Homo sapiens: one gene and its partners. The protein of the gene in region 1 interacts with the protein of each later gene in a pairwise test. Each region holds a gene or a part of one and is shown in the gene's direction. Other genes may lie near its edges. The genes, in order: CFAP68, PLSCR4, PEF1 and PROP1.

The links.
Region 2: the proteins of CFAP68 (region 1) and PLSCR4 interact in binary tests that used the Homo sapiens proteins (3 or more experiments, as listed by UniProt).
Region 3: the proteins of CFAP68 (region 1) and PEF1 interact in binary tests that used the Homo sapiens proteins (3 or more experiments, as listed by UniProt).
Region 4: the proteins of CFAP68 (region 1) and PROP1 interact in binary tests that used the Homo sapiens proteins (3 or more experiments, as listed by UniProt).

What each region holds. Positions count from the first base shown.
Region 1 is NC_000011.10:111,882,227-111,887,172, forward strand, and holds the end of CFAP68 (cilia- and flagella-associated protein 68), read left to right. Parts: intron 1-141; coding exon 142-372; intron 373-909; coding exon 910-976; intron 977-1,544; coding exon 1,545-1,654; 3' UTR 1,655-3,749; downstream 3,750-4,946. UniProt on the Homo sapiens protein: Microtubule inner protein (MIP) part of the dynein-decorated doublet microtubules (DMTs) in cilia axoneme, which is required for motile cilia beating.
Region 2 is NC_000003.12:146,240,545-146,248,555, reverse strand, and holds part of PLSCR4 (phospholipid scramblase 4), read left to right. Parts: intron 1-8,011. UniProt on the Homo sapiens protein: Catalyzes metal ion-induced ATP-independent rapid bidirectional and non-specific movement of phospholipids (lipid scrambling or lipid flip-flop) between the inner and outer leaflet of the plasma membrane and participates in the redistribution of phospholipids between membrane leaflets.
Region 3 is NC_000001.11:31,634,537-31,642,547, reverse strand, and holds part of PEF1 (peflin), read left to right. Parts: exon of another isoform or gene 1-939; coding exon of another isoform or gene 940-948; intron 949-7,025; coding exon 7,026-7,326; intron 7,327-7,604; coding exon of another isoform or gene 7,605-7,702; exon of another isoform or gene 7,703-7,882; intron 7,883-8,011. UniProt on the Homo sapiens protein: Calcium-binding protein that acts as an adapter that bridges unrelated proteins or stabilizes weak protein-protein complexes in response to calcium.
Region 4 is NC_000005.10:177,993,243-178,001,511, reverse strand, and holds the start of PROP1 (homeobox protein prophet of Pit-1), read left to right. Parts: upstream 1-5,269; 5' UTR 5,270-5,578; coding exon 5,579-5,687; intron 5,688-7,173; coding exon 7,174-7,406; intron 7,407-8,269. UniProt on the Homo sapiens protein: Possibly involved in the ontogenesis of pituitary gonadotropes, as well as somatotropes, lactotropes and caudomedial thyrotropes.

The sequences.
Region 1 (4,946 bases):
GAAACAGAACCATAACATAGCCTGGATCATTAGTACGGTGTGCTTGTGTTATACCTGGCTATGTAAAACAAGGGCAGGAAAAGATGCTTTTTCTCTTCTCTGGTTTATGCAATAAGCTTTTCTATTCTTGTCTTTTCCCAGAGACAGAACCTCGCCTGTTTCCTCACAAACCCACACTGTGGCAGCCTTGTTAATGCAGATGGCCATGGTGAAGTGTGGACAGATTGGAATAATATGTCCAAGTTTTTCCAGTATGGATGGCGATGCACCACTAATGAGAATACCTATTCAAACCGTACCCTGATGGGCAACTGGAACCAGGAAAGATATGACCTGAGGAATATCGTGCAGCCCAAACCCTTGCCTTCCCAGGTAATCTAACTTTGTCTTTTTTGTTTGTTTGTTTCCTTCTGTTGGCAAAAGAAATGTAGTGGCCATTTGAAATGCAGGGATGTAATAACTTCTGGTGCAGTGATCTCTCAGTTTTCAGTGAAGTGGTTGGGGCAGAGGAACAGTCCGCAGCTGAACCACCTATGCTACTTTACTGTCAAGTTGAATATTTTATTATCTGTAAGGTTTCAAAAGGAAGGGCAGTCCTCTTTTTCTCTTACTTCTGTTTGGACTTTATCTCTTAGTCTACAGAAATTTATAATGTCTTCTGACTTAGACTAGCTTTTCCCCTGGTCCTTGCCTATCTAGACTTGTCATTTATCTGAGTCTTGCACTTAAATCGCTCCTAAACAAACAAACGTACAAAACATGTGAAAGTTAGAAGGATATAGACTAACACCATAGAACTCAGTCCATCTAAAATATGACAGTCCGTGAGAATTCATGTCATATTGATCTTTATTTCCTGATGTTAGCTGTAGACTTCCAGATTCTTAATCTGTTAATTTTTCTTTCCAGTTTGGACACTACTTTGAAACAACATATGATACAAGCTACAACAACAAAATGCCACTTTCAACACATAGTACGTGGACTGTTTTTTCAAATTCTTACATTTTCAGAACCTAACTCAGTGACCGGCACATAGAAGGAACTCAAATAAAAGTAAACTGAATAGGTGAATAAGTGAGGCTGGGCGCAGTGGCTCACACCTGTAACCCCAGCACTTTGTGAGGCTGAGGCAGGCAGATCACTTGAGGTCAGGAGTTTGAGACCAGCCTGGCCAGCGTGGTGAAACCCCATCTCTACTAAAAAAAATACAAAAATTAGCTGGGCTTGGTGGCGCATGCCTGTAGTCCCAGCTACTCAGGAGGCTGAGGCAGGAGAATCACCTGAACCCGAGAGGTGGAGGTTTCAGTGAGCAGAAATCAAGCCACTGCACTCCTGCCTGGGTGACAGAGTGAGACTCTATCTCAAAAAAAAAAAAGAAAAAAAAGGTGAATAACTACATGAATGAGTAAACAGGATTTTTTCTTCAATTTTAACAGGACTTACTGTCTATTCCCTAGAAATAAGAGCAAGATCAGTTACTAAAACTCCTTAGTGTTGACTGTTTTCATTTGTCTTTCCTTCCTTTTTTTTTCTTCCCTCAGGATTTAAGCGAGAGCCTCACTGGTTCCCAGGACATCAACCTGAACTGGATCCTCCCCGATACAAATGCACAGAAAAGTCAACTTACATGAATAGCTATTCAAAGCCTTAAATTGGGCATCACTCAGGATGTGTATAAGATCTTAATATTGACTAGTTTCACATCCAGGTTTCTAAGAAATGATAAGATACTTCACTTTTCCAGAGTGAAATGTAGGAGGGAGCACATTCTAAGTACAGCTAAAAATTTAGCTCACTGTAACACAGTTTCACTCTCTGAATAAATAAAGCAAAAAACACAGTAAATATTCTTTATCCCTTTTTTTGTTGTTGTTTTAACCAAGATTTAAATGTCAAATTTAATACAGCAACTCAGTTCTACATTTGGGGTGTTGTAGAAGGGCCTTAAAAAGAATTATTTTAGGCCAGGCACGGTGGCTCATGCCTGTAATCCCAGCACTTTGGGAGGCCGAGGCAGGTGGATCACGTGAGGTCAGGAGTTCGAGACCAGCCTGACCAACATGGTGAAACACTGTCTCTACTAAAAACACAAAAATTAGCTGAGCATGGTGGCTCACGCCTGTAATCCCAGCTACTCAGGAGGCTGAGGCAGGGGAATCGCTTGAACCTGAGAAGTGGAGGTTGTGGTGAGCTGAGATCATGCCACTGCACTTTAGCCTGGGTGACAGAGCGAGACTCTGTCTCAAAAAAAAAAAAAAAAAAAGAATTATTTCTCTGAAGTCTACAACCACTGTGGTCTTCCCTTCCTTCTGTCGTAGCAAGACCTCAGAATCTAGCATAACTTAGGCTAGGTTTGGCTAGATGCTTTCTGGGTATAAGCCAGAGTCGTATAGTGCAACTTTGCTGTGACCTTAGTGAACATCCCCTCTTGAGGACTACAAAAACAAACGTAACTTTTTAAAATTATTATGGAGAATTTTACGTAAAACAAAAGTAGACAGGCTAGTCTAATGAACTCCCATGTATCATTACCCAGCATCAACTATTTATGACTAATCTTACCTACTTCTACTTTGTCTTATTGAATTAATTTTGGAGCAGATCTTAGAAATAGAATTTAATCTATAAAAATCTTGGTGGGCTGGGTGCGGTGGCTCATGCCTGTAATCCCAGCACTTTGGGAGGCTGAGGTGGGTGGATCACCTGAGGTCAGGAGTCCAAGACCAGCCTGGCCAATGTGGTGAAACTCCATCTCTTCTAAAAATACAAAAATTAGCTGGTCTTGGTGGCGGGCGCCTGTAATCCCAGCTACTTGGGAGGCTGAGGCAGGAGAATTGCTTGAACCCAGGAAGCAGAGGTTGCAGTGAGCTGAGACGGTGCCATTGCTCTCCAGCCTGGGCGACAAGAGCGAAACTCCGTCTCAAAAAAAAAAAAGAAAAGAAAAAGAAAAAAAAAATCTTGGTATACTGGCTGGGCACAGTGGCTCACACCTAATCCCAGCACTTTGGGAGGCTGAGGCAGGAGGATAGCTTGAGGCTGGGAGTTCAAAACCAGCCTGGGCAACATAGCAAGACCCCATCTCTACCAAAAAAAATTTTTTTAAAGATTTCAGTATATTTCTCAAAAAGATAAGGACTGTCAATTGTCTACTCCCCCCCAACAAAGGTCACTAAGGAAACCTGTTGACTAAACAAAGCTCATTAAACCTATTGTAGTGTAGCAAAGGAGACCATCAACTTGACACAGAGTCTTGGTAATGATTCAAAGGGAGGATGTTAGAGTAAGGTATTTATAAGGATTTGAGATAAGGGTCCAACTGGTTTAAAATGAGTCAAAATAGGGAACTAGTAGAGACTGAGAAAGGGTTGTGAATAGCTTAGGTTTGGTAAACTTAGGAAATCAACAGTCTTAATTTTAATATGGTTAAACTGATTAGTATTTCCTATTTTTTTATCTACTGTGTAAGAAGACACTATAATATATGGGCATTACTGAGAGATACTGCCCATATGTTGTCCTCGTAAGCAAGGAGATATTTTTTATCTCCCATATATTACCTCTCAAACCTTTGTTACTTTAGTTTCGAGATATAGATCCAGAATTTATGTTGTTACTCAGTAGTGAGGAAGTTTCTTTTTTTTTTCTAAATGGCTATCAAGTTGTCCCACCATTAGTTATTGAAAAGACCATAATTTTTTCACTCCTATTCAATGCCATTTTTATTGTAAATAAACTATGTACATGTAGGTCTGTTTCTGGGCTACTATGTTCTATTAGTTTAATTGTCATTCCTTGTATTATCTTAGTTATGATGCCTTAATTGCACCATCTTAATTATGATAATTTTATTACATTATTATTATTTTATATCTTAATACCTAATAGATCAAATGCTTTCGTCTTGTTTTCTTCAAGAATATTAGCTATGTTTGAACTTTTGCATTTCCATATAAAATTTAGAATCAGCTTGCTCCATAAAATGACACTGTTAGGATATTGATTGAAACGGTATTGCATCATTAGGTCAGTTTTAGAATTTGAGTTCTCATTAATTCTAATAATTTATTTGTATGTTCTTACAATACAAATATTGTTTTATAGACACATATTTTAAGTTTACATATCGTATGTCTTATTCTATTTCCTATGTATCTAGCACATTTTTAAAATTGAGGTAAAATATACATAACATGGCTGGGCGCAGTGGCTCATGCCTGTACTCCCAACACTTTGGGAGGCCGAGGCTGGCGGATCACTTGAGGTCACGAGTTTGAGAGCAGTCTGGCCAATGTGGTGAAACTTTGTCTCTACTAAAAATACAAAAATTAGCTGGGCGTGGTGGCAGGCACCTGTAATCCCAGCTACTCCAGAGGCTGAGGCAGGAGAATCTCTTGAACCCAGGAGGCAGAGGTTGTAGTGAGTCAGTATCATGCTATTGCACTCCAGCCTGGGCGACAGAGCGAGACTGTCTCAAAAAAAAAAACCTATACATATATATATATATATATATATATATATATATATATATATATATATATGTATGTATATATATACACACACATAACATAAAATTTACCATTTTAGCTTTTTTGTTGTTGTTGTTCATAGAGACAGGGTTTCACCATATTGCCCAGGCTGGACTCAAACTCCTGACTTCAAGCAGTCCACCTGCCTCAGCCTCCCAAAGTGCTGGGATTACAAGCATAAGCCACCATGTGTGGCCCATTATAGCTATTTTTAAGTGTGTAATTTAGTGGCATTAAGTATTTTCACAATGTTGTGCAATGTTCACAATGTTGTGCAACCATCACCACTATCAATTTCCAGAACTTTCTCATCATCCCGAACTAAAACTCTGTACCTATAAAACAATAATGTCTCATTCCCCGACCCCCACTCCCTCAGCTCTTGGTAACCTGTATTCTACTTTCTGTCTCTATGAA
Region 2 (8,011 bases), on another chromosome or scaffold:
CCAAAACATAAAGTTAAAACACAAAATGAAACAACAAGTTGAAACACTGTGTGTGTGTGTGTGTGTCTGTGTGTGTGTAGTGTAGTAATTATATTTTTGTAAATAATTTGGAATATAGGCTGAATTATATTGTGAGTAGTGATGTTTTACACACAGCCGAATTATATTATTATGAGTAGTGATGTTGTTTTACACATTTCTATAATGTATGCGTGTGTATAAGGAAAAATTGATAGTGATAGTAATTTATACAGAACATTGCCTTCTTGAATATATTAGCTGTCATTTACTACAGAAGAAATATATTTCACAAAACCTTTCATATTGTCTCATTTTTTTTCTTTTATAAGTGTCCTCTTTCAGCTGCTTCCTTTAAAATCCCCTTCCTTAATATTGATGTTTATGATGTTTATTGCAAGAACAGCAGTGAAGAATTTTGCTTGAGGGATTTCACAACCAGTTAACTTTTATAAACAAAAAATACAGCAATGTTCATACTCATATGTTCACCAGCATTGTGCTAAAATTCATTTTTATAGTACTCATTCTTCAGGATGAAAGAGATAGATATGCTAGTCCTTAAAAAGAAAAACATCTAAAGTTGGAAAAAAATTGTTTTTAATTGCATGGTAAGGCTGGGTGGCGGTAGCTCACGCCCGTTATCACAGTACTTTGAGAGGCAGGGGTGGGCAGATTGTTTTAGCCCAGGAGTTTGAGAGCAGCCTGGGAAACATGGCGATACCCCACCTCTAAAAAAATTTAAAAATTAGCCAGGCATGGTGGCACCCACCTGTAGTGCCAGCTGCTCAGGAGGCTGAGGTAGGACAATTGATTGAGCCTGGGAGGTCAAGGCTGCAGTGAGCCATTATCATGCCACTGCACTCCAGCATGGGCAACAGAAAGAGACCCTGCCTCAAAAATAAAACTGCATGACAAAAATGCAGTGAAGACAAATGATAAGTTTTGAAAAGATAATTTTAATATAAAATTTTAATACCTTTCATATAAAGAAGACAAATGAAAAGCTAACAAAAATGAACAAATGACAAACAGGCAGTTCACAGAAATAGAGTTGCAAATTGCTTTCAAACAAATAATAAAAGTGGCTCAGCCTCCTCATTATGAGATATATGGAAAATAAAACCAATTTTTTTTTTTTATATATCAGATTGACTACTACAAAAATGTTGATAAAATACTGTATTAGGAATGTAACTTTTTGTCTGGGGTCTAAATTGATTCAAATTCTTTAGAGTGCAGTTTGATAGTATCTTTAAAAATGTACAAAACTTTGATCCATCAGTTCTGCTTCCAATAATTTAATGCACAGATCCACAGGAAGAAAATATTTTTTTCAGCATTTTTGGTAATAGCCTAAATTTGGAAACGATTTAACTTGTTGTCATTAGGCAGCCAGTTAAATACATTATGTTGCAGCCATTAAAAAGAATGAGGTTATATGGACTGAAATGTAATTAACATCAAGACATTTTAATAAATGAAAAGAAAAAGACACAGAAAAGTATATAGATGATTGCCATTTTATAAAAACTGTGTGTATTAGTTTATATATGCTTAGAAAATCTATTGGAGGAAAAAAAATCTAATGTCTGTGGTTGCCTTTTCAAATGGGAAATGGGAATTGGAGTAGGTGGGATTTTTTTGTATAAATGTATTGTGTAAATGTATGCACTGCCGACTCCTTGAATTATATTTGTGTTTGTTTGCACATAACATCTGTTTTTTAAAAGTCTGTTTTCATAAATGTAAAGTTTCTTATCAAAGTGACTTAACTGTATGCAACATGACATCTTGTTTTACTACAATTTTAAATACTAAAAGACTAGCTGTAAAATGACACAATGAGGCGTTCTTGGTAATCATAGTTGGCATGGTAATGTTTCCTTAATGTCTTATATAAACATCATGAGAATATTGTTCTGATATTTTTCTACTCTAAATAACAAAAACATTTCCCTTTTGAAAGCTAAAAAGGAGACACCTGATATTCTCTTTAAACAATTTGAACTAAATTAATATATTTAATAAAGGTTATGTATGGACTGTGGCTATCAATTTGCTTTCATTTAATCTTATCTTTTATTTTATATTAAAGCCAAATAGCTAACCTCCAAGATCCTTCACACTTGCTAAAAAGAATGAAATATTCTACCATACACTTTTTCTTTTGAAGGAGTCATGATGTTAATAAAATAATAAATATATTGATATAGGTTATAAAAACAACACAATAAAAATCTTAGGTTTTGCCCTTGTAATTTGTTGAACATTAATCACTCCCTAAGTTTCTTCTAGAATTGATTTTATGCAAAGATACAATTAAATACATATATGTTAACATGTAATTATAATGAAGATACTGTGTATCTATGGGACATTCCTGCTGCAGCATATTTTATCAACATGGACCTAGGTTTATCTTTTGTGCAAGCCTGGAATTCGTTTCTCTAATTTCAGCCCATGTGACAGAAACTTACTAAGTTTACAAGATGTCTACAGAAATGACTGAATCCTTCAGTCATTGGACTTTAATCCACTCATATTGAGCCCACTGAACTATCCAGTTCCCTATAGCCAAGAAACCCATAAAAGTAATTAACACAGTCCACCATAGGAGCCAAGAAATTTGGCTTAAAGTCTATAAAGAGGATTGTACTTGGAAAGGTGTGCATAATATTTCCTCTTTGATGAACATGCAGGTCTTTTTAGTTACAGATTCACTACAAGAGAGTACATTGTCAGGTTTTAAAAATTATTTTAAAAACTCAGTTTATATAATTTATTATACATTTATTGTAGAAAATTTAAAGAGGAAATGTTTATATCTTAGCATGTTTCCTCCAGTTTCCATATTTTTTAAAAACATTGCTATCATTATAATTATCCAGATTATATGTTTAACATTTGAATGTAAACATTTAATGATTTTTACAAAACTGTTACTATATTTTTAAAGGAAAATTATTTTATCATAATGTTTCATGATAATGTGTTTACTTAACAATTGTGCTTGATATTTATGTAGTTTACAATCACTACTATTTTCGTTTTGCATTCCTTCTGTGAAAATGAGAATGTATCACTTAAAAATATTATATGGCATATTTTGGATTTATTTTGAATTTGGTATAGAGGAAATTTACTTGGGTTTACAAATGAGATTTGAGAAAAAATAGATATGTCTTATATTGGTAAACTGAACATTTGATTGAATGTATTATGATTCCTACAGCAGATAGGTTTTTATCTGAATGGGGTAAAATTTCATAGATCTGTAACTGAGGGGGTGTGTGTTGGGGCCAGGAGGGGATATATTAAAATCATCTGGGAAATGGCTTCCATTTTCTTTCCTTATCCATAGAAGCAATGATCCTTTTAAGCTTTATCATGAGACTGCAACAATTCGGTAACATCTTCATGCTTCACTTCTAACTCTTAGTTCTCTTGCTATTCTCTCACATCTGCAGGTACTTCATCCAATGAAGTCTTGAACCACGCAAAATCATCCAGGAGGGTTGGAATCAACTTCTTCCAAGCTCCTGTTAATATTTATATTTTGACTTCCTCCCATGAATAACAAAAGTTCTTAGTGGTATCTAAAATGGTGAATCCTTTTTAGAAAGTTTTCAATTTACGTTGCCTAGATTCATCAGAGGAATCTAGGCCTAGCTTTTGGCCTGTCTTTGCTTTCAGCATGCCTTCCTCATTAAGCTTAATCTTTTCCAGCTTTTTGACTTAAAGTGAGAGATGCACGAACCTTCTTTTCACTTGAATATTTAGAGGCATTTGTAGGCTTATTAATTGGCCTAATTTCAATATTGTTTTGTCTCAGGGAATAGGGAGGTCCTAGAATAAGGGGAGAGATGGGAGAATAGTTGCTCTGTGGAGCAGTCACAACAACACTTACTAAGTTCACCATCTTATATAGGCATGGTTCATGGGGTCCCAAAACAATTATAATAGTAACATCAAAGATCACTGATCATAGATCACCATAACAGATTGTTATGAAAAAGTCTGAAATATTGTGAGAATTACCAAAATTTGACAAAGAGACAAACTGAGAAGTTGCTGTTCTGCAAAATGGCACTGATAGACTCCTTGATACAAGGATGCCACAAACCCTCAATTTGTTTAAAAAAATGGAGTATCTGTGAATCACAGTATAGCAAAGCACAGTAAAACAAGGCATGCATGTACATAATGAGGTATCTTGAGAATGGGACCCAAGTAAACATGAAATTCATGTTCCATTATGTTTTAAACATATAGCCTGAAGATAATTTTATACAATATTTTTGATAATGTTGTGTATGAAACGTTTACGTACGTTGAACCATCAGAAAGCAAAGGTATCAGTATCTCAATCACCCATGTGGACAATCTGTGGTTATTTGACGTCACCATCATTCCTGACTCTAAATTCATTATGCTACTGATAAGTAATCATTTTCTTACATTACTCACAAATAAGTGCTTAACAGTAAAAAATAGGATGTATCATTAGTACAGTGAAAAGAGAATGCGTTCAGGGTAACTAAGCAGCACAGTAGTATCTCCAGAATGCCTGTGTCGGAAAGCCACCAATAAGCAATGGCAGGCTTTCATTCTTTACCTACAATGCTGTATTTTGATTACAAGGTTATCATTCACTGAATTTTATTATTTTAAGTGAGAAGAAATATCAGAAGTAGCCAAGTGACCAGCAAGTGTTTTCTCTACAAATGAGGAAGCATTCTGATGGATGACTTTTCAGAATGTTTCCTCTGGAGTCCGCTGTCTCATTAACAATGGTTTTTGTCTTAGAAGTCTCTGTTGATTTTACAGACTGACACAATTTCTTATTCTGTGATGAATGAATGCTCTTAGAGTCCTTCAGTAAACCCATCACATATTTTCACCATGTCATCTATAGGCACTTTGCAGTTTTAACAGTGTCCTCATCATCTTTCACTTGTGACATCATGTTGGTGCTGAAAGTTTTGGATTTTTGAGCATTTCAGATTTTGGACTTTTGGATTAGGGTTGCTTAGTCTATACAGCATTTTATGTGCCCGAACTCTGCATGAATATTATAATCTTTTCTTAAAGTTAGAGATTGGTTCATCCTTTTTGTTCATTTCTTTGTTTTCAAGAATAAATGACAACACAGTTTTTGTTTTGCTTTCTATTTTTTTGTTTTTCAAGAGTTTTGGAGCATAGTCAGGATCATGATGATAAGAAAGAGATGTATATATGTAACAAACCTGCATGTTGTGCACATGTACCCTAAAACTTAAAGTATAATAAAAAAAAAGATGTATACAGTTGGTAGAGCATATTGTTAGCAGGAGTTTGAGAAGAGGGGTTTCAGTCAATTGAGAGATCCCCATGGAAGAAGCAGGATGAAATACAGATAACAGAACTAATTCTTACAAATTTTTTTTCTGAAAATGGTCCAAGTGTCAATTAGGAACTTTCCAGGTTTGATTTGAAACCCCCACCACAGAATTTGTTTTTCCTCCCTGAGAGATTGATGGGTTACTGTTTTGGGATTAAAGCCTTTGGGGGCTTTCTCTGGTGGAGAAATAGTTCAGACAAAAGGTAGTGGATCCATTAGATGGCTAATATAAAAGTGGACAATGTATTTTCCAGTTGCATGAGTGTTTACCATAAAGGCAGACATCTTGGGGCATAGGGTTCTTTATTTTGGGATCCTCTTGGGCCCTGTAGCCTTTACAACTGTAAAGACATAAACCTGTTTGCCTTTCGTAAGGAATTTTCCCACTGTAGCCATTCTAAGTTACTTTTGCTAAGGTTCTCCCATTCGTCTCGAAAAGCACAGGTTCTGGGTCTCTGGTTTTTATACATGAAGTTGGCTAGAATTCCAGAGGGCGAAGCTCTAGCAACCTTTGACCAGATAAACCCATGATTCTATGTCTTTTATTAACCTTTCCTACCTACTAACTGAGTTGAGTTTATGTCTGACCCAGTCAAATACCTGAGGCCTCCCTACTGGGCCCAGTCCTGTTGTTGGCATGACTTTGAAACCCAGTGTAGATCAAAAATGCTCAAACTCAGCTCAAATCAGAAGTTCATGAAGCTTAGATTCAAAAATCTCACCCATGACCCCAGTTGCTGCGAAAGAGCAGTGAGTACACTGGGCATGCTGGGTACCTTAACTTGGTCACTCAGTGCTCCTGGGATCACTGGAAGTTTGCTTCAAGATCTGACTTCTCATGTGAAACTCTTAAAAGAAAAACTTTAGGCAAATTCAGCAGAGTTTATCTGAGCGAAAAACGATTCATGAATCAGGCAGCCCTCAGAACCAGAAGAGTTTCAGAGAGCTCCACCGAGCAACATGGGCAGGCAGTATTCATAAACAGAGGAAAGAAGTGACGTACATAAATCAGTTGATTGGATCCAGCCTGGTATTTGCTTTATTTGGTCATGGTGTGATGAGGCATTTGCCTTCAACGGACATGGTCTGATCAGTTGACAGCCCGTGATTGGCTGAAGCTCCACTACCATCATTGGCTGAGACTCAGCTACTTGTTACAAGAATACAACCTCAAATCAAGTTGCAGTCTGCTATTTACAGAGGCAGCTTTAGGCCCAATTTAATTTATCAGGTTATGATTTAGATTACGTAGAAATGTGTTGTTTTATTTTTATGTGGTTAGAGAATTTCCTGTTATCTTGCGGTTAGTAATTCCTAGCTCATTACATTATGGTCGGAGAACAAGCTGTATTATTTTAATTTTTTTGTAATATTTTAAGATTTGTTTTATGAGCCAGAATGTGGTCTGTCTGGGTGAATGTTCCGTACGTTGAAAATAATGGTTATTCTAATGCTGTTGGGTGGGTGTCCTACAAATGTCAGTGTTGGTTGATGATGCTGTCTAGTTGTGCCAATATCATTGCTGATTTTTCCTCTGCTTGTTCTTGTAGATTACTAAGAATGGAGTGTAAAAGTCCTCAACTGTAACTGTGGATTTCTCTTTATTTTTTTCAATTTTGCCAGTTTTTCCTTCATGTATTTTGAAGCTCCATTGTTAGGATCAGTCATGCTTAGGATTGCTGTATCTTGTTAAGAAATTGTCTCTTACTTTTAAGTGATAGCCCTTCTTATCTCTGGTAATTTTCTTTGCTCTGAAATCTACTTGTGAGATATTAGTATAACCACTCCAGCTTTCTTTTTCTCTGTAATGACTTTGTTGAGACATAATTCACATACCATAAAATTCACCCATTCAAAGTGTACAGTTGAGTGATTTTTAGTATATTCAGAGTTGTGAAGCTATCACCACAATCTAATGTTAGAATAATTTCATAATTCCAAAAAGAAACCCATGCCCAATAACAGTCATTTCCCATCTTCTTGAAGCCACAAATCTACTTTATGCCTTTATAAACTTGCCTATTCTGGATAGTTCACATCAGTAGAATCATGTACTATATGGTTTTTTTGGTGACTGACTTCTTTCTAGTAGTGTAATGTTTTCAAGGTTCATCCAGGATATAGCATGTATAGCCATACAAAATTACTTTGTATGGCTGAGTCATATTTCATTGTAGGGATATTTAAAAATTGATCAGTTTACCGATTGATGGATATTTGAATTGTTTCTATTTGTTGGCTATTATGTGTAATGCTATTATGAACATGTTTTTGTGAAGGCATTTATTTTCATTTCTCTTAGGTATATACCTAGAAAGAAATTACTAGAGGACATGGTTAACTGTATTAACCATAATGAAACTCTATGTTTAATCTTTTGAGGAACTGCCAGACTGATTTTCAAAGCAGCTTTAACATTTTACATTCCTCAGCGACATATGAAGGTTTCGATATCTACATATCTCTCCTAAAACGTGTTGTTATATTTTTTATTATAGTCATCTTACTAGGTGTGAAGAGTATCTAATTGTAGTTTTGTTGTTATTTTTCAAGAGACAGGATCTTGCTCTGTCACCCAGGCCAGTATGCAGACACAGTCATAGCTCAGTG
Region 3 (8,011 bases), on another chromosome or scaffold:
CCCCTCCACCCACTACATAGCTTTGGAGGATTCCAGCCTATTGTTAGGAGTCAGAATTCCTGTAATTTTCCACTGCTTCCAGTCCAGGGTACCCAAGCAGGGACTGGGTATTGGAGTAGTAAAATTCAAGCACCCTTTGGTCCTATGGGGGAACGAGCTTGGTGGATTTCAGTGCTTAAGAGCTTAGTTTTTGAGGCCAGAGAGAGTTGATTTCAAATCCCTGCTTTGTCACTCCCTTGCAGAAGTTTGTTGCAAAAGTCTGAGACTCAGTTTTCCCTTTTTTGAAAAAAATTTTTTATTTATTTGTTTATTTTTAAGACAGAGTCTTGCTCTGTCGCCCAGGCTGGAGTGCAATGGCACAATCTTGGCTCACTGCAACCTCCGTCTCCCGGGTTCAAGCAGTTCTCCTGCCTCAGCCTCCCAAGTAGCTGGAATTACAGGCGCACGCCACCACACCTGGCTAATTTTTTGTATTTTTAGTAGAGACGGGGTTTCGCCATGTTGGCCAGGCTGGTCTCAAACTCCTAACCTCAGGTGATCCACCTGCCTCAGCCTCCCACAGTGTTGGGATTACAGGCGTGAGCCACCACGCCTGGACTAGTTTTCCCTTCTTTAGAATGGGGTCATAATAGTATCTACCTCAGAATTACTCTAAAGATTAAATGAGAAAATCCACGTAAAGTGCTAGGTATGGTGTTGGGCATGTAGAATACTCCAAGTGGAGGAGTAATGCAGTTATGCAGATTGAAGAGGCAATGTGATAAGTATTCAATGGGAGTAAGTGTAAGGTACAGCACGGGAGAGTGAGATACCTAACTCAGTCTAGGGGTGCATTTTTAAAAGAGGTGATATTTAAGCCAACAACTGAATCACTGGTAGAAATTAGCTGAGTGAAGAAAGGAATGCTATTCCAGCAGAGGAAATAGCTGCACAAAGCCCATGAAGCAGGTAAGACAGCCTAGTATTTTGGAGGAACTTTAAGAAGTTCAGTGTAGTTGTAGTGATGTGGGGGAAAGGGGTAGGAAATAAGACTAGAAAGGTAAGCAAGGGCCAGATCCCAAAGGGCCTTGTATGCCTTTTTGGGGAGTGTGACTTCATCCTAAGAGTAGTGAGGGAGCCAGTGAAGTGTTTTGTCCCATTTGTGCTTTGGAGTGCTTACTGTGGGGTGCTGTGAGAATGGATTGAAGCAGGAGAGACAGGAGGCAGGGATACCGGTTTTGACGCTATTGAGGTAATCTAGGCTAAAGAGAACTGTGACCTGGTAGAGGAGATTTGAGAAGCACTTGGGAGGTAGATTTGAGAAAACTTGGCCTTAGGTTTGGATGATTAAGCAGAACGGAGCTCCATTCACTGAGATGAGAACACAGGGAGGCATGGGTTTGGAGGGAAGGTCCAGTAGGCTGCTGGATATGTGGGTCTGTAGCTCAGGAGTGATGAAGCTGGAAAGATTTGAAAGTGTGAGCACAGAGGTAATTGAAGTCTGGGGATGGTTCTTGGCTCATTGTTTATTGGTTGCGTGCTTCTCTCCTATTTCAAGTGGCTCTGCTGGTGAATGCTTGAACTGTTCCTCTTGTCTTCCTGTGATTGTTTAACCCCTTAGTTTGGGCTTCCCACCTCCTCCTGTGCACTTGAAGGGTAGCTCTGGGGTACAAACTTGTCTTTGCAATGCTCCCTCCTCCATTCGTCATCAGGGCTCAGCTTGGAACAGCCGTTGATACCTTTAAGCTTCACAGGGGTCTTGAGGTTAGAAGACTTGAGTCCTCAGAACTGGAAAGAAAAAAAAAATACCGGACTTTCTGAGGTGGTTATTTGGGAGGAGGTAAGCTCCCTACTGCTTGCGCAAGTGCAGGTAGAGATTCCAGGTGGTTCTGCAGAGATTCCATTATTAACTGAGAGGTTGAACTGAAGAGTCTTTGGGGTGTCTTCCAAAATGTGGCTTGGCTCTCAAAGTGACTCTAGGTGCTGGGACGAAAAAGAATGAGATTTTTCTAAGAGTCCCTGATTTCTGGGCTTGAAGGCTCTGAGAGATCACCCAATCCAGCCTTCCCCTCTACCTCTGTCCACAGTAGAAATTCATTATATTTGACAAAGACATTTAGCACAGTCCCTCACACAGACACATGCTAGGCACTCACTCATTTATTGAGTGAACAAACAGAAGGGGGTAGTGTAGAGTCATGCAGACCCTGACTTGAATCCCAACTTGCCCATTCTAGCTGCATGATCTCAGGCATGTTATTAAACTCTCTGCCCCTTAATTTTCTCATCTGCAAAATGGAGATGACACTGTTTACCTCACAGGACTGAGGATTAGTGAGAGCTGGTTGAACTGGAAGCACCTAGCAGAGCCTCAGTAAATGTTTGTTGCCCCCAGTCCCCCCAGGGCATCAGATGTAGCTTATTTGCAATCAGCCAGAGCCCTAGAGATAGTTTTTCTGTGTTGCTTCAGAAGCTGCAGTTACTGAACTCTTCCTGTCCTTCCCCTCCACCTGCCTTCACAATCCTGTTTATCAGTATGAAATAACTCTTGGAAAAACTCTAAAAAGGGCTGGGAGCATGGAGTAGTGTAAAAGAACGTGGAGTCAGGGATGCTGTTTTTCATTTCTGGTTCAGACCTTTGCTAACAACTCAGTGACACTGGGTGACCCTCTGTGAGGTGGGGACCACCTCATCTTCTTCCCCAAACTTCCTGTGCAGCCTGCATTCTGTCTCAGTTGGCTCCACCTCCTTCATCTTGTGCAAAAGCTAGAAACCCGAGTCATTCTGAACACTTTCCTCACTCCTCCTCCATCTCTTTCCTAATCTAATTAGTCACCAAGTCATGTCTGGTCTATCTCTGAAATAGCTTCAGAATCCATTCCGTTCTCTTCATCCCCAAGTGTGCTGTCTGGTTCATGCCCTGCCTGCCCAGCACCTGGGCTACTGCCTCCCTCACTGGCTCATCCTCCACACCGCCGCTGGTTACTTCTCTAAACAAGGTTCTCATCACGTTCCTCTCCTATTGGAAACCCTTCTATAGTGCTCTGTTTTCTCCGGCATAAAGCCCCAACAAAACTCTTTAGAGTGGTGTTCATTTGTCCAAATATTTGTGGAGGCTTGCAGGTGCCAGGCACTGTGCTGGGCCCTGGGGTGCCATGATGAGTGAGGCGCAGTGTCTGCCCCTGGGGAGCTTACTGTTGGGTGGGGGAGATGCTAGACAGAAACTACTCTTAGACACTGATACCTCACGGCTAACTGAAATGCAGGGGGAGAGGTGCTTGGTCAACGAGTGTATAGAGGGCCTGCCTTTCTGGGTTCACACTGCATTCTTGGCTCTGCGGTTTAACTCATTCCCTGAATGCACTATGCTCACTCTTAAGTCTGTGCGTTTGTCTTTCTTCTCTCTTCTGTCTGGAGTGTCCTTCCCTGCCTGCCTTTTGGAAAATGTCTATGCATCCTTCAAGGACCATTTCCAATATCACTGCCACTTCCTCCAGGAAGCTTTCCTTGACCCACTTCATACATTGTTCATTTATTCATTCTGCAAACAGCACAAATTCCTCCATCTAAGCTTCCTTGATAGCACATAAGTAGATTTTTCTGATGGCACTGATCAGATTGTATCACAATTATCTGTGGGCCCCTTAAGGGCAGGACTTCATTTACTTGTGTCCTCAGATCTACTACAGAGCCTAGTACAATATTGTCACTCTGAAAATGCGTGCTGAATGAAGTCCTTTAACAGCTCCGTGGCTTAGTTTCTTCATCTGTAAAAGAGGGCAACTAACATCTTCCTTTTTTCTGTTAGGAGGCCATTGGCAAGATTCTGCCTGTAGTGTTTGTGTTTGTGAAAGTACTTTGTAAACTACAGAGGAGGTCTTCAAATGCAGGACAGAAAGGAAAGGGTTTAATTGCTGCCAGACTACAATAGCCAGAAGGGCAGGAGACCTGCCTGGCAGCACCTGCTTTGTTGGCCTGGGGATGTTTCCTAGGTGGTTTATAGGTGGTTTCCTAGGTGGGTTTTCCTAGGTGCCAGGTGCGGTTTATAGCTTTGCTCACAGGGCTTATAGTGGGGCAGCTACTTCTGGCTTCGTGTCTGGCCTGTTCTTTGGGTGTGCCCAGATTCTGCAGAGTTCCCACTCCCTTTCCATCCTATGCTGGAATCCTGAGCCCTATTGCTTAATGAAGGAGTGTTGTAGCAGGAGGCAGGGGGAGTCATTGGGTGCAAGGGAGTGGTCCAGCCTTGTCTCTTCCTCCAGCTCACAGCATTACTTGGGCAAGTCCCTCCCTCCCTCCCCCATCTGTAAAATGGGGGTTAGGTTAAGTGACTTGTCTTCTGGGTATTTCTCTTGTCACACCTCTCCAACCCCTTGGGAATCCTGTTCGTTCTCTAAGTCCTAGCTCAAATGCCACTCTCATGGAAACACTCCCTGATTTTACCCTCCTTCCTTTGCAGTCCTATGGCACATGACTTATGTCTCCATTTCAAACACCTGTTTTCCTTATGCTGTTTTGTTAGACGTTACACAGTGTCTACATGTTAAGTCTTGTTAACTGTGAGTGCCTTCAGATTGCTTCACTCTCCTTTATACCCCACCCCGCACAGTTCACCTGGCCCAGGACTTTGCTGATAACAGTAATTAATATAGCAATAGCAGCTATGACTTACTGATCATTTGCTTTATGCCAGGCACTGTTGTAAAAACTATTTTTCTTATGTGAGTGGTTTTCAGACTGTCTTTTCAGTCACTGTGAGGGGTTTTCAGAGCCCCCTCAGAATGTAGCAAGGGAGGGGGTTCCATATTGTAGGGGCTCTGGAGCTCCCACCTTACTTCAGCCAGAGCAACTTTCTTGTATTTGTTTTATTTATTTTATCAAAGGATTCTTTCTTTCTCTCTCTCTTTTTTTTTTTTTTTTTTTTTTTTGGAGACAGGGTCTCCCTCTGTTACTCAGGCTGGAGTGTTGTGGCACAATCACAGCTCACTGCAGCCTCCAACTTAGGCTCAAGTGATCCTTCCGCTTTAGCCTCCCGAGTAGCAGGGACTACATGTGTACCACCATGCCCGGCTGATTTTTAAAAATTTTTTGTAGAGGTGGGATCTTACTATGTTGCCCAGGTTGGTTATCAAAGGATTCTTTAGCTAAAAATTAAACTGACAGAATTTTGCTGCATTTATTTTTTATAATCTGCAGAACAGTCCAGTGAGGAAGGAATTGTTCTATTTGTGAGGAAGCAGGCTCAGAGAGATGAAGCCACGGGCCCACAGTCATGAACTTAGCTGATGGGAGCAGAGTTTTAAATTGAGATCTGTGTGAGCCATTCTTGTCTGTGAAGGAGTCTTGCTAGTAGCTATGACAGCTTCTAGGGTAGAAAAGCTCCCAAGGATTGCTGAGTGGGTGACAGGGCCTGCTTCCTGCCCTCCCCACAAAAAAACCTCATGAATTTGGCCTTAGCCTTAAGAGTAATTATTTCAAGCTATCAAACACAATAAAAAGAGAAAGCCCAGGCTCTCAGTGGCTTGGCCACTGGTGCACTTACAGGTTGATCTAGAACGTATCTAGATGGTGCCGTTCTCGGAGCTGGGCCTAGCTGCTGTCTGTGCCCTTGAGCTCAGCTTGTCTGCAGATGTGTTGGGGCTGTGCTCTGCTGGGTCCTGTGCTAGCCATTTAGGGAGATGGAGCGGAACACTCCGAGGGCTACTGGTGTGGGAAGATGGATGAGAGAGGGAATGCCCCCATGTATGCTCTAATGCACAAATGCCCTGGACATAGAGCCAAGAGACCCAGGTTCTGGTCCCAGCCCCTCCACACAGCCTGTGTGTGACTTTCCTGGACTTGAGTCTTGTCCTCTGTAGGAGGCTATTATTAATAGTGTTTATTGAGTGCTTAATTTGTGTCAGGCCCAATGTCAAAGGGCTTCACATAGCTGGCCTCATTTCATTCACAAACTAACCTGAGAGGTAGCTATTATTATTCCCATTTTATAGCAGAAGATGTTGAGGCTTAGAGAGGATAAGTCAGTCCAGTTAGTAAATGGCAGAACCTGAACTTGAACTCTTGAACTGGTTGTTTTTTGTTTGTTTGTTTGTTTTGAGATCGGATCTTACTCTGTCACCCAGGCTGGAGTACAGTTGTGTGATCATGGCTCACTGTAGCCTCGACCTCCCCAGGCTCAGGTGATCCTCCCACCTTAGCCTCCTGAGTCATTGGGACTATAGGTGTGCGCCACCACACCTGGCTAATTTTTGTATTTTTTAAATAGAGATGTAGTTTTTCTATGTTGCCCAGGTTTTTAGTAGAGATGTTGTTTTTCTGTGTTGCCCAGGCTGGTCTCTAACTCCTGGGCTCAAGCAGTCTGCCCGCCTCAGACTTCCAAAGTGCTGTGATTACACAGCTGTGAGCCACCACGCCTAGCTGTTGAACTGGCCTTTGAAAGCATTGTATCGTATTGCCTTAGGAATAGGGTCTCCCCTGCCTGCCTCACAGAGTTGTGAGTGAGGATAGGGAAATGTTTTTACATCAGGGTAAGGAAGACATGCTGTGGATGAATCCATGCTATAGCTATGTCATTTGTGACTGATGAGGGTCAGGGGTGTGTGTTAGAGACTGCGTTTGCCCCATGAGTTCTGCAGATAGAGATGGGAGTACCACAGGATGGGCATTTGGAATTCTGTTTGATTCATTTGCCTATTCATTCATACAGGAAATATTTACCAAGTATCCATTCTACACTGGGAGCTGGGGATAAAGTGACAAACCAGACAGGATCCTAGCCCTTGTGGAGCCCCTTGATGTGCAGGAAAGGAGAGTTAGGAAAGGAGGATTTCAACCCTGACTCTGCAGGTCATTGGCGGGGTGACTTTGGGTAACTCGTTGCTCCTCTGGAAGCCTCAGTTTGCCCATCTGAGCAGTGAGATCATAATTCCAACCCTACCTATAGGATCAGTTGAAAGGATGGTGGTGGAAGTGCTTTATGGTTGTAAAGTGCCATACTCTGCCTAGTTTCTGGCCTCATCATTCTGACTGATATCTTGCTCTTCCTGCAGGGCTGCCCAGGAGCTGCAGGACAAGCACCAGGAGCCCCTCCGGGTAGCTACTACCCTGGACCCCCCAATAGTGGAGGGCAGTATGGTAGTGGGCTACCCCCTGGTGGTGGTTATGGGGGTCCTGCCCCTGGAGGGCCTTATGGACCACCAGCTGGTGGAGGGCCCTATGGACACCCCAATCCTGGGATGTTCCCCTCTGGAACTCCAGGAGGACCATATGGCGGTGCAGCTCCCGGGGGCCCCTATGGTCAGCCACCTCCAAGTTCCTACGGTGCCCAGCAGCCTGGGCTTTATGGACAGGGTAAGTAGTAATCTTGGACTCCGGGTACCTCTGACGTGGTTCTGAGTTATCCATGGCCAGCCTTTGTCCTTCCTGTGGGTGTGCAGGCAGCCTGGTCTCTGGCACCTTAGCATCTTGCTTCCAGCTTCAGTGTGTATCCTCAAAATGATAAGTTTGTCAGCTAGTTTTGTTGCAAGCATTTATTTGTATTGCTTGCTCATGCTTACTTTCTTTTGCTTACATGTCAGCAGCTGTTAGCTGGCTGTTGAGTTTCTGTTCCCTGTGTCTTTTTCATTCAGGGATACATGCTGAAGGAGCAGCTCCTGTTTGGGATATGTTATCTTTGTGGCAGAGAGAAGGAGCAGGAGAGCTAGCAAGAATGCACAATGCCTCTTAAAGCTTCTCTGAAGTACTGTATGTCTTGCCCACTTGCATTCTTTTGGCCAGAGCACCCCCTGATCAAGACTGACATCAGTAGGATGGGAAAGGATGCCCCTCTGCAAGCCACCAGGCAGTGGGAGAGGATGTACAATGCTCTTATAGGGAAGGGGAGATTAGCAAGTAATCTAATAATAGATTATTGAACTGGCCTTTTAAACCATTGTACCATATTAGTACAATGTCTGTGGGTGTGCAGACTGTGTCTCCTGGCTAGAGATTATTAGCCAGGAGACGATAATGTAGCCTACCATGGGGAGAAACTCAG
Region 4 (8,269 bases), on another chromosome or scaffold:
AAGTCAGGAGTTTGAGACTAGCCTGGCCAACATGGTGAAACCCTGTCTTTACTAAAAATACAAAAATTAGCCGGGTCTGGTGGCAGGCACCTGTAGTCCCAGCTACTCAGGAGGCTGAGGGAGGCAAATCACTTGAACCCAGGAGGCAGAAGTTGCAGTGAGCCCAGACTGTGCCACTGCACTCTAGCCTGGGCAACAGACTGAGACCCTATCTCAAAAAAAAAAAAAAAAAAAAAGAATAAGTGTTGAGTTTTATCAAATGCTAGATAATCATATGGTTTTTTATTGGTTGATGTGATGAATTATTTACTATGAGCCTATTCTTATTCTCTTCTTTTTGCTAAGGTGTAAACCTTAGCCTTTTAGGACGTCATTCTACTCGTATGTCTTATATATTTCCTTTTGTTCAATATACTAGTATCTTTACATTGTCTTTTCTGAACAGATGAGCTAAACAAAAACTTGAATTCCTTTCTTTGATAGAGTCTTCATAGGGCATTCTTCATACCTGCTCAAACACAGAAGGAAAGTTCTAGTATTGTGCTCATTTTGCGAATGAGGAAGGTAAGGCTTAAAGTGATGAAATTGCTTGCTGTGGTCACACAGCAAGCAAGGGCTGGTTCTAGAATTTGAATTCAGACAACCCGACTTGCAGGATGTTCTTCTAGGATCAGAGTATCCTTAAGGGACACTCTTCCCACAGAATTTCTTTACTATTCAATAACTTTTCTGCAGCATCACAGTGGACTAGATAGGGAGGGTGTCCGGATGGGGGTGGAGTTTCCTGAGGTGTCAGAGGCACTGGAAGGTCTAAGTAACTTTGGATGGCTAAAATGCTCTAGGAATCAGAGTCACTTGGTACAGTAAGATATTCCTCTGGGCATTGTAGTGAGACTGTGTCTGTACAAAAACATACAAAAATTAGCTGGATATGGTGGTGCGCACCTGTAGTCCCAGCCATTCAGGAGGCTGAGGTGAAAGAATCACTTGAGTCCAGGAGTTTGAGGCTGCAGTGTGTTATGATGACACCACTGCACTCCAGCCTGGGTGACAGGGCAAGGCCCTGTCTCAAAAAAGGTGTATACATATATGTATGTGCGTATACACACACACACACACGTAATCCTCTAGGGTCAAATAACCTAGAAGGTAGGGTGTTCATATGCTCAAAGTAAGCTAGGATTTATGGTGTTCAGGGGAATCAGTGTGTCCTCATAGAGATCTGATCCACTGGAGACTCAGGGCATCCTTGTATGGTCAGAGTAGTGTCCTGTGGGTTTGCCTTGTTTCTGGATGATAAGCATGCCCATGTAGGTTCCAAGTGTATTGTAGGATTTTTTTTTTGACAGAGTCTCGCTCTGTTGCCCAGGCTGGAGTGCAGTGAGTGGCGTGATCTCGGCTCACTGCAATCTCCGCCTCCCAGGTTCAAGCGATTCTCCAGCCTCAGCCTCCTGAATAGTTGGGACTACAGGCACGTGCCACTGTGCCTGGCTAATGTTTTTGTATTTTTAGTAGAGACAGGGTTTCACCATGTTGGCCAGGCTAGTCTTGAACTCCTGATCTCAAGCTATCTGCCTGCCTCAGCCTCCCAAAGTGCTGGGATTACAGGCGTGAGCCACCGTGCCCGGCATCTTGTAGGATTTTAAAAGGTCAGAGGACCCTGGGGAACAGGGTGTTAAGAGGATCCAAAGAGATCACATAGGATCAGATGAGATCTTAATGGTGAAAGTCAGAGAGTCTGGGAGACTTGGAGCATCTTGGGAAGGCAGGGGTATTGGGAAGGCAGGGGTATTGGAGAGACAGGGCGTCAGGGCAGGCAGGTGTTCTGGGCCTACAGGCATTTTCATCATGTCAGAACACTTGAAGTATCCTTACAACATCACCAGCTTCGAGGTCAGACTGTCCTGGAAGATCACACCACTTGCATGGAGTTAGGATGTTTTGGAGGTTGGTCTGGCTGCGTGATTCAGAGGCTCCTGGATGTTCTGGGAGTCCAGAGCTGTGAAGGTTTTCAGGTAGGTCAGCATATACTTTTGGTATTTGAATGCGGGAGATCAAGGTTTTCTGGAGCTCAGGTGGTCCTTGAAGGTTTGGGTAGACTTGAATGGATCTGTCATGGAGTAGAGTGCCAAGGTATTCTTGTGCAATCAAAGCATTTTCAGGAAATCAGAGGGTCCTGGATGAGCACAGTGTGCTAGGCAGGGGTGAGAGTATGGCAGAGTGAAGGTGTCCTGGCAGTTCTGGGATGTGTATTCTACAGACGGGTGAGAGTATGGCAGAGTGAAGGTGTCCTGGCAGTTCTGGGATGTGTATTCTACAGACGGGTGAGAGTATGGCAGAGTGAAGGTGTCCTGGCAGTTCTGGGATGTGTATTCTACAGACGGGTGAGAGTATGGCAGAGTGAAGGTGTCCTGGCAGTTCTGGGATGTGTATTCTACAGAGGGGTGAGAGTATGGCAGAAGTGAAGGTGTCCTGGCAGTTCTGGGATGTGTATTCTACAGAGGGGTGAGAGTATGGCAGAGTGGAGGTGTCCTGGCAGTTCTGGGATGTGTATTCTACAGAGGGGTGAGAGTATGGCAGAATGAAGGTGTCCTGGCAGTTCTGGGATGTGTATTCTACAGAGGGGTGAGAGTATGGCAGAAGTGAAGATGTCCTGGCAGTTCTGGGAATGTGTATTCTACAGAGGGGTGACAGTATGGCAGAGTGAAGGTGTCCTGGCAGTTCTGGGATGTGTATTCTACAGAGGGGTGAGAGTATGGTAGAGGTGAAGATGTTCCGGTAGTTCTGGGAATGTGTATTCTACAGAGGGTCTTGCAGGGAATAGTTGCCTTGAGAGGACAGAATCTCAAGAGTTAGAATAATCACCTTTTGGATTCAGGGGGTCCTAGTGTGTTGAAGCTGTGCTGGGCTGTCTGTGTATTGGGAGAGTGGGAGAGTGACAGTGACTAGGGTGCCTACTGACAACTCTAGGGCTGAGACAACCAGAGTACACTGGAAGGTTGGAGAGCCCTGGCATTAAGACATCCCCTGTGTCAAAGGCATGTTGGATGGTCAGAGTGCTTTGGGAGACCTGGATATGTCTTTTCTTCGTCAAAATATCCTATGGATCAGGCTAGTGTGGTCAGGGTATTTCCTGGGTTGGGGTTGGCATGTTGAGTGGTTTTTCAGTGTCAACAGCACTTTGCAAGATTCAAGCAAATTGGGGGCTCTGAACAGGCAGGAAGACAAGATGCCCTTGACGGTCTAGATTCTGTAAGGTCAGGAATTCCTTAAAAGGTTAGAATTTCCCAAATCTCACCATGTCCTCATGGTCTGGGTGACTTAGAGGGTCACAGAGTGATTGTGAGCCCAAGATGTTGTGCTGAGTGTAAGGTACAGAGGTCAGAGCCTCTTGGAGGGTCTGTGTGTCCTGGAGAGTGAATGCATCCTCAGTGCCCTCAGCATTCAAGGACCTGACAGGGCCAGAATGGGTACCCCAGGCAGCAGGATGCATTGTAATTCAGTGTTCTCTTGTGAGTCCAAGCTGACTGCATGTCACTGGGTCTTGCTAGGTTAGGACTGCCATGGGGTTCAGGGTGCTCCAGGAGGTCAAAGTGTGTCCTAGGGTAGGGGAGAAGGGTTAAAATTAGAGCAGTGTTTCCCAATTTTACGTTGCTATGGACTAAACGTTTGTGTCCCTCCAAAATTTCTACGTTGAAGTCCTAACACCCAACGTGATGGTATTTGAAGGTGGGGATTTGGGGAGGTGATTAGGTTTAGATGAGCTCATGAGGGTGAGGCCCCATGATGGGATTAGTGTCCTTACAAGCAGAGGAAAAGAAACCAGAGCTGGTTCTTTCTCCACCATATGAAGGCACCGAGAGAAGGCAGCCACCTGCAAGCCAGGAAGAGAGCCCTCACAGGGGAGCCAAATAGGCGGACCCCTTGATCTTAGACTTCCCAGCCTCCAGAACTGTGAGCAATAGAAGTCTATTGTTTAAACCACACAGTCTATGCTATTTTGTCATGGCAGCCCCAGCTGACTAAGACCCACGTGCACTCGGTTCTCCTGGAGATCTTGATACAAGGCAGATTGTGACTCAGTAGAATGGAGGTGGGGCCCAGGGATCTGCATTTCCAACATGCTCCCATTGCTGGTGCTGCTGCTGCTGCTGATCCATGGACCACACGGTAAGCATCGAAATCCTAAAGGATTCTGATTTCCTGTCTTGAATCACCAGCGTGTTTTTAAAGGACCTGTATGACGGCATGACCCTGGGAATCAGACTGTCCTGTGGGTACAGTGTGTTCCAGGGGGTCCATGTGTTCTCACTGGGTCAGTGTATCCTGAGAAGCAGAGGTGAAGTGTTCTGGGTGTCAGCGTGTCCCAGGGGATCCTAAGGTCCTGGGCTGTTGCATCATCCTTAAACTGTCAGAGTGTCCTGGGGATGTCAGAATGTACTTCCCAGGTCTAAGTAACCTCAAGGGGCAGAGTACTGTGGGACCAGGCTGTCCTGACTGCTCAGAGATTCCCGGTGTCAGGATTTTCTTGAAGAATCAGAATGTAGTATGTCACGGGAATCTCAGTCTCTTTCCAAGTCCTGGAGTCTGGAGTGGGTTTGGGGGTCAGGATGCAGCTGGAATGCAGATGTTCAGGTCAGGGTTTTCGGAGAGTCTGGGTGACCTTGGAAGGTCATGGTGTCCTGGGGGTTCTGGGTGAATGAGGAAGTGGTGTTTGAGGGAGGAAATCAGAAAGTACTTGAGAGCTAAGGTGTCCTGGAGGCCCATTCTCCGGAGTGGGTTCAGGTTGGCCTGAGCACTGGCTGGTGTGTTCTGAACTATCAGGGTATCTGAGAGGGGCCAGCATGCACTTGTGACTTCTCCTTTTTTAGTTTCCTGGAAGCAGATCCTTGAGTGTCACCCCCATGCTGAGACGCCAGGCAGGCTCCACTCCTGGGTCCCTTTCCCCTGCTCTTCGTTCCTCTCCCCACAGTGGGGTTGTGAGGAGGGGGTCTCGGGAGGAATGCATTTTCTCCTCCTCCCCCTGCCTGCTCCCAGGAGGGGATTTAACAGGACAAAAGAATCCGGTCCTCTGGGAATACGAGCCCTTGGCCCCAGTCCCTGGACCCTCCGACAGAACACCTTCCCTCATCCGGCTTGTGATCCTCCCTGAGCAAGGGGGCTCTGGTGACCGTGTAGTGATTGGATGGGCCCACAGGGGCGAGGAGGAGGTCACTCCTCCAAGACTCAGGGGTGGGATGGGAAAGTAGGCAGCTGACAGAAGGGAGCAGCATCCCGGTGGGGAGAAGGGCCAGGCAGAGAAAAGTAGTCAGAAACAGAGCAACAGGTGAGGCTGAGGCAGGAGATTGAGCTGACACTCAAGCCAAGGAAGGGGGAATTAGGAAACAATTAGAAAAAAAGTAAAGACAGTGAAAAAGTCAGAGACAGCTGCCTGCACCTACACACACATTCAGAGACAGAGTCCCAGAGGGTGGCATACACAGAGGGAGAAGGGGAGGGAACAGGTGTGGAGAGGAGCTGCGGAAGCAGAGAAATCTCAAGTCAGAGATTCAGGGACACTTGGTCCCCGTGGCGAGCCATGGAAGCAGAAAGGAGGCGCCAGGCTGAGAAGCCAAAGAAGGGGCGAGTCGGCAGCAACCTGTTGCCTGAGAGACACCCGGCCACTGGGACCCCGACCACCACGGTGGGTGAGTGACCGTCCCGGTGTGCGTGGGTCCCTGAGGAGGCAGCGGGTGTGAGGCTGAAAGCATAGGCTCCATGAAGAAGGTTAGGAGGAGAAATTAAAACCCGAATCCTATCATGTTAAAACTGTGGGAACCTTTGAAAGTAAAAGGGACTGGAGCACCCCTTGGCTTTACAGACTGGGGAACTGAGCCCTTGGCAGGAGGGGGCGGCTGAACAGCTCACATTGCAGTGGGGATGTGAGACAGTTACCTCTGTCCCCTCACTCCTGACCTCAGAGTTGGTTAGCCCAAGCCACTGCCTTCTCTGATGAAGGGAGCTGGAGGGGCCAGGGCTTTGGGTCCAGGGCGGGAGGGCGGGCTCCGTGTGTGTGTCCCCCATGGTGGACAGTGAGCTCTAGGAGGGTCCACGCCCTTGGGCCCCATGGGGATGGTGCCTCGGCTCCAGACATCTTTTCTTGGTGTGCGCCTTCCAGGTGTGTCCTTTCCCTCCCCGTTCTCTCCTCCCCAACAGCTCTCAGACTAATTAGTGTGGGGGCTTAGGGAGCCTGTGGGGAGGAAGGCAAGCCTTTCCCACGAGCTCAAGTTCCTGCAGCCTGGTGGCTGGGCCAGGGCAGGGGTAGGGAGGAGATGAAAAGTAAGTAGGGGAGGGTGTGTCTGAGCGGAAGAGGGGGGTGCCCATCTTCCCAGGTGAGGGGTGCGGGAGATGGCAGCAGTCTGAAGAAGGCACAGGTTGAACAGGAGCCTCGCCAGCAGGGGACAAGCACTAGGGTCTTCCGTAGACAGCTGGGACGATTGTTAGGGTGCAGGTGCACACAGCAGACCCACAGGGTGAGCCCCAGGTGGTCGTGTGTGTCCAGAAGGGTGAACGTACATGGAGGGGTATGTGTCTGGCAGTGCAATAGGAAGTGGGCAGACAGTAGAGTTGCCAGGTAGACAGTGCATGAGTGCCAGGGCCAGGAATGAGTCTGAGGGTGTGCCCTGTGTAGACAGCACAGCCTGGTGTCAGAGACTCAGAGGCAACCAGGGGCCGAGGCTGAGCAGGGTGCAGGAACCAGGCTATGGCAGCTAAAAGATTCCCGGTGGGGCAGGGCTGGGTGCGGTGGCTCAGGCCTATAATCCCAGCACTTTGAGAGGCTGACATGGGAGGACTGCTTGAGGCCAGGAGTTTGAGACCAGCCTGGGCAAGATAGCAAGACCCCATCTCTAATTTTTTATTTTTTTAATTAGCTGGGTATGTTGGTGTGCACCTGTAGTCCCAGCTACTCAGGAGGCTAAGGCAGTAGGATCACTGGAGCCCAGGGGTTCGAGGCTGCAGTGAGCTGTGATCACACCACTGCACTCCAGTCTGGGAGACAGAGCAAGACTCTGTCTCAAAAAAAGACTGGAGCAGCACAGGACGCACTGAGCGCAATCCCGGGACAGGCACATGTGGTCCAGCACCGAGGAGCGTCCTCCTCAGAAGCCGCCCCTCCCTTCTCTCCGTTCTCAGACTCGAGTGCTCCACCCTGCAGAAGGCTCCCTGGTGCAGGAGGGGGGAGATCAAGGTTCTCCCCGCAAGGAGGACAGAGGGGCCGCCCGCACTCCCGGCGCCGCCACCGCACCACCTTCAGCCCAGTGCAGTTGGAACAGCTGGAGTCAGCCTTTGGGAGGAACCAGTACCCCGACATCTGGGCCCGAGAGAGTCTTGCCCGGGACACTGGCCTCAGTGAGGCCCGAATCCAGGTGATGCTCCAGGATCCTCCTCTCTCAGGAAAGAAATGCAGATTTCTTTGGTGCTATCATAGAATGTTGGGCATTATAACCCTAACCTAAATGGTCACCAGACACAGGCCTCATCTCACCACCAGCATCAGAGCAACTGCATTGAGAATATCATATCACTTGAGTTTAACCCTAGCTATAAGCTAATCTAACTTGAATTTCAACACCTACCCTCAATATTTAATAGTGATGCCAATTCCGGCTGGGCACAATAGCTCACACCTGTAATCCCAGCACTTTGGGAGGCCAAGCTGGATGGATCACCTGAGGTTAAGAGTTCGAGACCAGCCTGGTTAACATGGTGAAACCCCATCTCTGCTAAAAATACAAAAAATTAGCCAGGCATAGTGGCAGGTGCCTATAATTAATCCCAGCTACTCCGGAGGCTGAGGCAGGAGAATCACTTGAACCCGGGAGGTGGAGGTTGCAGTGAGCCAAGATCATGCCACTGCACTCCAGCCTGGGCAACAAGAACAAAACTTTGTCTCAAAAAAAAAAAAATAGTGATGCCAATTCCAACAGAAGTTCAATCCTAACTGTCCATATTCTTACAGAAGCTTGTCCCTAACCATAGCCTTGAAACTCAATGAGCCAAATGCTCCCTCAATCCTAACCCCAGGGTTGGTTAGCCTTAAGTGTAAACCCTACCCTAAATTCAAGCTTGTCTATAGCAATTACATTTATCTACAGTCTTAATCGTTAAACTTAACCCTAGGGGAAATTTCCCATTCTCTGGGGAAGGGAAATGTCATTGTCACCATATTTATCTCCTTGGTGGAAGCTGACACTTCTTACTTGCCCCGAGTGTTAGAAAAGGGCACATG